Homo sapiens: one gene and its partner. The protein of the gene in region 1 interacts with the protein of each later gene in a biochemical or structural test. Each region holds a gene or a part of one and is shown on either strand. Other genes may lie near its edges.

What was found.
Region 2: the proteins of RGS5 (region 1) and GNAI2 form a complex in vitro, tested with the Homo sapiens proteins (one study listed by BioGRID).

The regions. Positions count from the first base shown.
Region 1 is NC_000001.11:163,168,082-163,172,001, forward strand, and holds part of RGS5 (regulator of G-protein signaling 5), read right to left. Parts: intron 288-3,920; coding exon 177-287; intron 1-176.
Region 2 is NC_000003.12:50,252,893-50,256,812, forward strand, and holds part of GNAI2 (guanine nucleotide-binding protein G(i) subunit alpha-2), read left to right. Parts: intron 1-131; coding exon 132-292; intron 293-3,299; coding exon 3,300-3,428; intron 3,429-3,830; coding exon 3,831-3,920. UniProt on the Homo sapiens protein: Guanine nucleotide-binding proteins (G proteins) are involved as modulators or transducers in various transmembrane signaling systems.

The DNA of each region.
Region 1 (3,920 bases):
CATGAGATAGTTGAGAAAAAAAAAAAGAGCTTCTTTGCAAACCAACTCTCTGAGGGCTCTTATGATCCTTAATGAGTAATTGAAGGGGGTAGTTCTACAGATGAGGAATGGTGCTAAACACTTGGAAAATAGCCATCCTCTGGAGGAAATGAGTGGAATCCATATTCATGACTCACTTCTGGGTCTTGGCTGGTTTCTCTGGCTTCTCATTGTACGGAATGACAAGGTCACCAACTGAGTCTGGCTTCTGGAGGAGAATTCCCAACTTGATCTTAATCTCCTTGGCCCTGAAAGAAGAGACACAAGGGGAAATGAGGACACCACATGTGCATACAGATTTTAAGAAGAGATTTCTTCCTGTGTCAGAGAAACAAAAATGAACAAAATCCCATTTCACTTTTATTTTTCTTGTGGCAGAAAGAATACTAATGCAGAAATTAGGATATATAAGTTCTAATAAATAGCATTTATCAAGCTCTTAGTATGTCCTTCATTAATTTGCACTACATTTTAATCCTCATTATTGTTTTATATGTGTTCTCTCATTTTATATCTGCAGACACTATAGTACTATTTCCATTTTGCAGATGAGGTCACGGAATGACAGGAGTTTAAATAACTTAAGATAACCCAGCCAGTATTTGGTGGAGACAGATGTGAGCCCAAGCTGTCTGATGCTAGAGTTCCCAGGTAGAACTCTGCATGCATTGCCTACTAGTCTTCTGAGGGCTCTGGTCTTCACTATTGTTAGATATATGACATTTGGAAAAAATGATCACTTTTTTTTATTATTATTATACTTTAAGTTTTAGGGTACCTGTGCACAACATGCAGGTTTGTTACATATGTATACATGTACCATGTTGGTGTGCTGCACCCATCAACTCGTCATTTAGCATTAGGTATATCTCCCAATGCTATCCCTCCCCCCTCCCCCTACCCCACAACAGTCCCTGGTGTGTGATGTTCCTCTTCCTGTGTCCATGTGTTCTCATTGTTCAATTCCCACCTATGAGTGAGAACATGTGCTGTTTGGTTTTTTGTCCTTGCAATAGTTTGCTGAGAATGATGGTTTCCAGCTTCATCCAGGTCCCTACAAAGGACATGAACTCATCATTTTTTATGGCTGCATAGTATTCCATGGTGTATATGTGCCACATTTTCTTAATCCAGTCTATCATTGTTGGACATTTGGGTTGGTTCCAAGTCTTTGCTATTGTGAATAGTGCCACAATAAACATATGTGTGCATGTGTCTTTATAGCAGCATGATTTATAATCCTTTGGGTATATACCCAGTAATAGGATGGCTGGGTCAAATGGTATTTCTAGTTCTAGATCCCTGAGGAATCGCCACACTGACTTCCACAATGGTTGAACTAGTTTACAGTCTCACCAACAGTGTAAAAGTGTTCCTATTTCTCCACATCCTCTCCAGCACCTGTTGTTTCCTGACTTTTTGATGATCGCCATTCTAACTGGTGTGAGATGGTATCTCACTGTGGTTTTGATTTGCATTTCTCTGATGGCCAGTGATGATGAGCATTTTTTCATGTGTTTTTTGGCTGCATAAATATCTTCTTTTGAGAAGTAAAATGACCACTTTTTACTGCCAGACCTCAGTTCCCTCATCTGTAAAATGATGACGTTATCCATCATTTTAGATGTTTTTTGAGCTATTTCCAGCTATAAAATTAAATCATTCCACTTGATTATTTATTTCTCTATAAAATTTTTGTTTCCAACTCCTTATCCATTGTTCTCTATGGCTGTCAGACTATCTTATGTGCAGTAAGCCTTGATAAATGAGTACTAATTGCCAAACAACAAACTACAGCAGAATTTACTGCTTCTTTGTATCTTCAGTATTTTAGTGAGTAGATATGGTCAGAATTCTGGGTACTCCTCCATCACGGGATGCAACTATTTTCACGCTCAGTTTTAAAACTAACCTTCTAATCTATCCATCACTTTATCACAATTCTATACTAGAAAAGCACCAGGCAAATCTTAAATATTAATCCATAGGACAAGTTGTTGAATATTGGGAGACCCAAAAAGCTACCCTTTCCCAGTCACCTTAGCACTTTACCCATGCTTTTAAGACAGGGTTCATCATATTGCATTATGGTCATTGACTTATGTTTCTGTTTTTCTACTTGGATATGAGAACTTTTTGATGGTAGGAATTTAGTCTTAAATACTTTTTAACCCCTGTGCCTAGCACAATGCTTGGCAATATAGTAAACATTTAAAAATATTTGCCAAAGTGAACTAAAAATATCTTGATTTTGTTCTTTACAAATCTGCTAACATTTACCTCCCAGTCAATGCTAATCATAACCAAAGTTTTAAAGAGATGTGGTGAAGTTCACATGGCAGCCAAATAGGATTTTACTATTGTACACATACTTTCCTCATTTGTTCACAGGGAGGCTGTGATGAGGCAATTTAAGTAAATGCCTAAGATTTGCAGTTACGGATATTAGGGAAAAAAAATGTAAGGAAACCTGTGGTAACTTATAAAAACTCCATAAATGCCTAATTATAACATATTTTCCTTTAGGCTAGTAAATATGGTTTTGAAAACTATGTTTTAGGAACAGTCATCTCTACAGTGTCATTTCCTTTTCATTTTGTTCTGCTTTCACTCTTTCCCTAAGACCCTCTCATTGACTAAAGCCAACTCAGGTCCCATAGTACCTCAGATCAAGCTCAGCACGGCATTAGGGTAAAAACTGGGACTGTTCTGCCGAGGGAGCTTATATAACATTGTGAATTAGAATAAGTGTCGCTTTAATTCCAAGTGTTGCAAGTTACTTAAATTATCTAATGTTTAGTTCTTTTGCCTAGAAATTTGGACTGATAAAATAGTATATCCTAAGACTTTTTGAGATGATTAAATATACTAATGCATGTGAGTCACTTAGCACAGCATTTGGCATAGAACACGGCTTCTTTAAAGTTAGTTCTAACTACACAATCATTTTTCCAACCCACCGCCCATGTTCCCTAGCTTCGAACATTACATTGAAACATACAAAAAATTCCCCGCAAGTTACTAAGGAATTACTACACCCACAACCTTCTATATTCTACCTCTGGGGACAAGAATTGCCAATTTTATATTTATCTGAAAAATGAAGAAAACATTAAGTGGGGAGGAGAAATGCATGCAATATTTGTGGCTACCCTCTGCTGACTAATGTGCAGTATTACAGTCAGAGATGCAAGGTGCACTAGGACACAGTATCCCACCCAGTCCGTGAAAACCTTCATCCATAATCCATATCCTCCTGGCTCCATAGGTCCCTCCCTTCCTGTGCACCCATCTGTGGAATCCATGCTGCAACTGTTTTCAGTTTCAACCTTGACACAATAGTCCACTCACCAATATTTAGATAACAATGATGTAATGAAAGTCTCTCATGTTTAGGTTTCTGTTTGGTTGGTTGTTTTGGTTTTAACTTTATCCCCCCTCTCAAATTTAGTTCCTTTTTTTTCTATTTCTTGCTCCATTTGAGCCTTTTGCTTTTGTAAAAGGCAGAAAAATATTTGTGTTTGATTTCCTGATGCAAGAATAATAGTTGGAGATTAAGGGATAATTAGAACAAAGAAATCGAATGTATGTAAAAGAATTATTAGTGACTTAATTCATTTATTCCTTACTGATTAACTCATTGGTCATGTTTACTGTGTCAGGCAGTATGCAGTAAATATACAAACACCATTAGGTTTGCTCCTTGCTTTCAAGGTGCTTTTAGCCCGGAGAGGTCTTAGATGTGGAAACAATCACAAACGGGTGCTTAAAGACAGACTGTCCAGAAAGCAGCAGAACTCTCACAGAGGAGCACCAGTGTCCACAACGGTAGATCAGGGGGAACTTCTCAGAGGAGGCAAATGTGGAACTAGAGAATGAGC
Region 2 (3,920 bases), on another chromosome or scaffold:
GTTTTAGGGCAAGTCTCATCCTAGGGAATCCAAGAATACCCTAGCCTGGGCCCCATTCCAGAGGTCTCCCTGCCTCTGGCAGAGTGGGGGTACATTCCTTCAACTGCCTGACCACCCGCCACTGTGCCCAGGACGACGCCAGGCAGCTATTTGCACTGTCCTGCACCGCCGAGGAGCAAGGCGTGCTCCCTGATGACCTGTCCGGCGTCATCCGGAGGCTCTGGGCTGACCATGGTGTGCAGGCCTGCTTTGGCCGCTCAAGGGAATACCAGCTCAACGACTCAGCTGCCTAGTGAGTGCTCTGAGGGGCTGGGCAGGGCAGGGCAGGGGCTGGGGGAGGACTAAAGGCTGGACCGGAGGGCCTGAGAACCCCCAGAAGGACACTGCTGGTCTTTGCTTATGAAACCGATGACTGTTAACCAAGGCCTTCCTGTTTTTTGGTTTGGGGGGTGGGTGGGTGTCACGTTACTGAAAGGCCAGGAGGAATGACAGGCAGGTGGCTTATACAGTACATCTCTTCCAGGCCAGTTGAGTCTGATCTGTCTTGACAGTCTTCTAAAGAACATTTGCGGCCGGGCGTGGTGGCTCACGCCTGTAATCCCAGCACTTTGGGAGGCTGAGACAGGCGGGTCGTGAGATCAGGAGATCGAGACCATCCTGGCTAACACGGTGAAACCCCGTCTCTACTAAAAATACAAAAAATTAGCCGGGCGTGGTGGAGGGCGCCTGTAGTCCCAGCTACTCAGGAGGCTGAGGCAGGAGAATGGCGTGAACCTGGGAGGTGGAGCTTGCAGTGAGCGGAGATTGCGCCACTGCACTCTAGCTTGGGTGACAGAGCAAGACTCAGAACATTTGCTGCCACCTGTTCTGTGCCAGGCTTCAAGGACACAGTGATGAGTGGAGCAAAGTCCCCATGCAGTGACAATTTAGGGTGTTAGTGAAAAGGTAGAGGTGGAGTTGGCCCAGAGACAGGATTGCTGAGCTCTGAAGGAGAGTCAGCCAGGGGAGGAGTGGATGAGGGGATTCCAGGCAGGGGCATAGCATGTGCAGCATCTCGGGGTGGTGGGGAGCTGGCTGTGCTTGAACATAGGCTGTGGAGGCTGGCTGGAGGGGGCCACAGGGGAGGAAGTTATCTGGGAGGTGACAGGTGTGTGTGTAGGTCAGAGCCCCTGGACCTCAGCTGTGACCCTCGCTGGCCCTAGGCTGAGGAATTACAAGGGGTCCCAGGAATCCCAGAGGCATGACAAGCCTGCACCCTTTCCACAGTTCTGAACTCCTTCCCTGTGGTATCTGTCATGTACTTGGACTGGTGCAGGGTGCTGAGGACCCCACGGGGAACAGGATAGACAGGCTAATAGCCATTGAGGATGGCTGCAGGGGACATCCACAGGCTTTGGATGGTGTCACCAGATAGGCTGCTGTCCCTGTACTCTAGCCTTCCCCTATCTCTGCTTAAGCCAGTCCCCTCTGACTGGAACACCCTTTTGCTCCTATTGTTCATCCAATCCTGAGCCTACCCATAGGGTGGATTTCAGCAAGGGTGGGTGGGAGGAGGAGGAGGGTCTTGCCTGGCTGTGATTCCTGAGCCCTGTCCAAGCCACATGAACAGCCTCCTCCTACCCTTCTTACATGGCCTGAATGCTCTTGTGAATATGTACCCCCTACAGGAGCTGTGGAGTCACAGCCAAATGCTGTGGGGGCCCCCAGGCCTCACCACTGCCCCTCCCTGAGATCTCTGGCCCAGCCACCAGCGAGCTTGGGGTCAGAGCAGCAGGGACCTTGGTGCCCATGATACTCAAAGGAAGCAGGAATAGAGCCACCTCCAGGCCACCTCCTGCTTCTCCATCATCCTCTTTCTCTATTCTCCAGACATTAGGCACCCACTGTGTGCCCAGCACAGTTTTGGGAGTGAATACAGGCCCTGTTCTCCCAGTCAGGTTTAAGCCTTGATAGCTCCCCCTGGGAATGGGTTGCGGATTGGAACACCACAGGAAGCAGGGCTCCTTCAGCCCCTCTTCGCAGCAACCCTCCAAGTGTGCAGCGAGTCAGGGGGTCCCTGGGGCGAACCCACCTGTTGGGGAAAAGGGAGAGGCTGGTGTGGAATGCACCATGGTACCTCCACATTGAGGACTCTGGCAGTAGGGGGCGGGGCATGGTATGCGGGTCACAGCACATGCGTCATCCTTCCCCATGGCCCTTCCTGTTTTTCTGTTTTGTCCCTGCTACTCTGAGATCATTTCCCTCTGGCCTGGTTTGGCCTGGGTGCTGGTGGGAGCCAAGGGCCAGCCCCAGCAGCCTTGCCCCAGGAATGAAAAGTCAGCTCTGGGCAGCAGCCTGGAGGCCTGGGACCAGCCTCCAGGGCATGGCAGGGATATTGAGGCAGGCAGCAGAGGCAGGCCCTGCAGGGGTAGCCTTGATACTAATTAAGGGAACTGGTAATGAGGAGCCCCTGGGACCCCTGCCAAGCAGGTGTCTGTGCCCTCCCCCTGAGGAACCCAGATTTCATTGGGCGCTGGGCAAAGAGCCCACTGGACCTGGCAGGCCCCAACCTGTCCAGCACCACATCGAGGGACCGCACCCGGCTGCTCTGCGGCTAATGCCGTAATTGCGCCCATTAGCATCCTGAATCCTTCACCGAAGGACTAATTTGCCTCCTCCCACCCTCTTTGCCTATAGCTCCAACATCCTGGATCCTGTCCGAGGCAGGTCTGGCTCAGACCCTGGGTGCTGGAGCTTGGCTGGCTAGCTGTCCACAGAGCTGCACCTCCTCCCATTCCCATTCTACAGGTGGGAGGCCGGGGGCTCTGAGTTCAGGTTTCTTCATTTGAGCAATGAGGTAATGCAGGCAGGGGTTAAAGAAACAAGGGCTGTGCCTAGGCCAGGCGCAGTGGCTCACGCCTGTAATCCCAGCACTCTGGGAGGCCGAGGTGGGCGGATCACCTGAGGTTGAGAGGTCAAGACCATCCTGGCCAACATGGTGAAACCCCGTCTCTACTAAAAATACAAAAATTAGCTGGGCGGCAGGCGCCTGTAGTCCCAGCTACTCAGGAGGCTGAGGCAGGAGAATCGCTTGAACCTGGCAGGCAGAGGTTGCAGTGAGCCAAGATCATGCCACTGCACTCCAGCCTGGCAACAGAGTAACACTCTGTCTCAAAAAAAAAAAAAAAAAAAAAAAAAAAAAGCAAGGGCTGTGCTTGAGAAATGGCATGGGAGGGAAGGGGCCTCTTGCAGCTGGCCCAGGGTCCAGCTAAGGAAGCCCCATGCTGGCCCCCACTGACCCTCCCACCCCCCATCCCCAGCTACCTGAACGACCTGGAGCGTATTGCACAGAGTGACTACATCCCCACACAGCAAGATGTGCTACGGACCCGCGTAAAGACCACGGGGATCGTGGAGACACACTTCACCTTCAAGGACCTACACTTCAAGTGAGCGAGCATGTGGACAGGTGGGAGGGGCAGGACCTGCCAGCCTCTGGGGTAGCAGAGGCAGGGGCTGGTCCAGGATCCCCCAGCCCCACTGAGGTTTTACAAGGCTCATGTGTTCTGGGCAAGCACATCCTCACCACCTAGTGAACCAGCAGTCAGGATCCACGCCACCTCTGCCAGCTGCTCACAGCCTCTGCTGCTCCTGCCTGATGTGGCTGCAGCCTGCCTGCTGTCCAAGCTCCTGGCCCAGAACCAGGGGTGAAGTGGGCAAGTGTGGATGATTCCAGAAGGTAGCTGCCCTACTCTGGGCAGGCCTCTGTCCTCAGTCAGCCAACCTGAGAAATGGGGTAGAAAGCCTCCCCCAGGCTCCCTTCCTGGAACTAAGGTGATCTATATCTGCAGGATGTTTGATGTGGGTGGTCAGCGGTCTGAGCGGAAGAAGTGGATCCACTGCTTTGAGGGCGTCACAGCCATCATCTTCTGCGTAGCCTT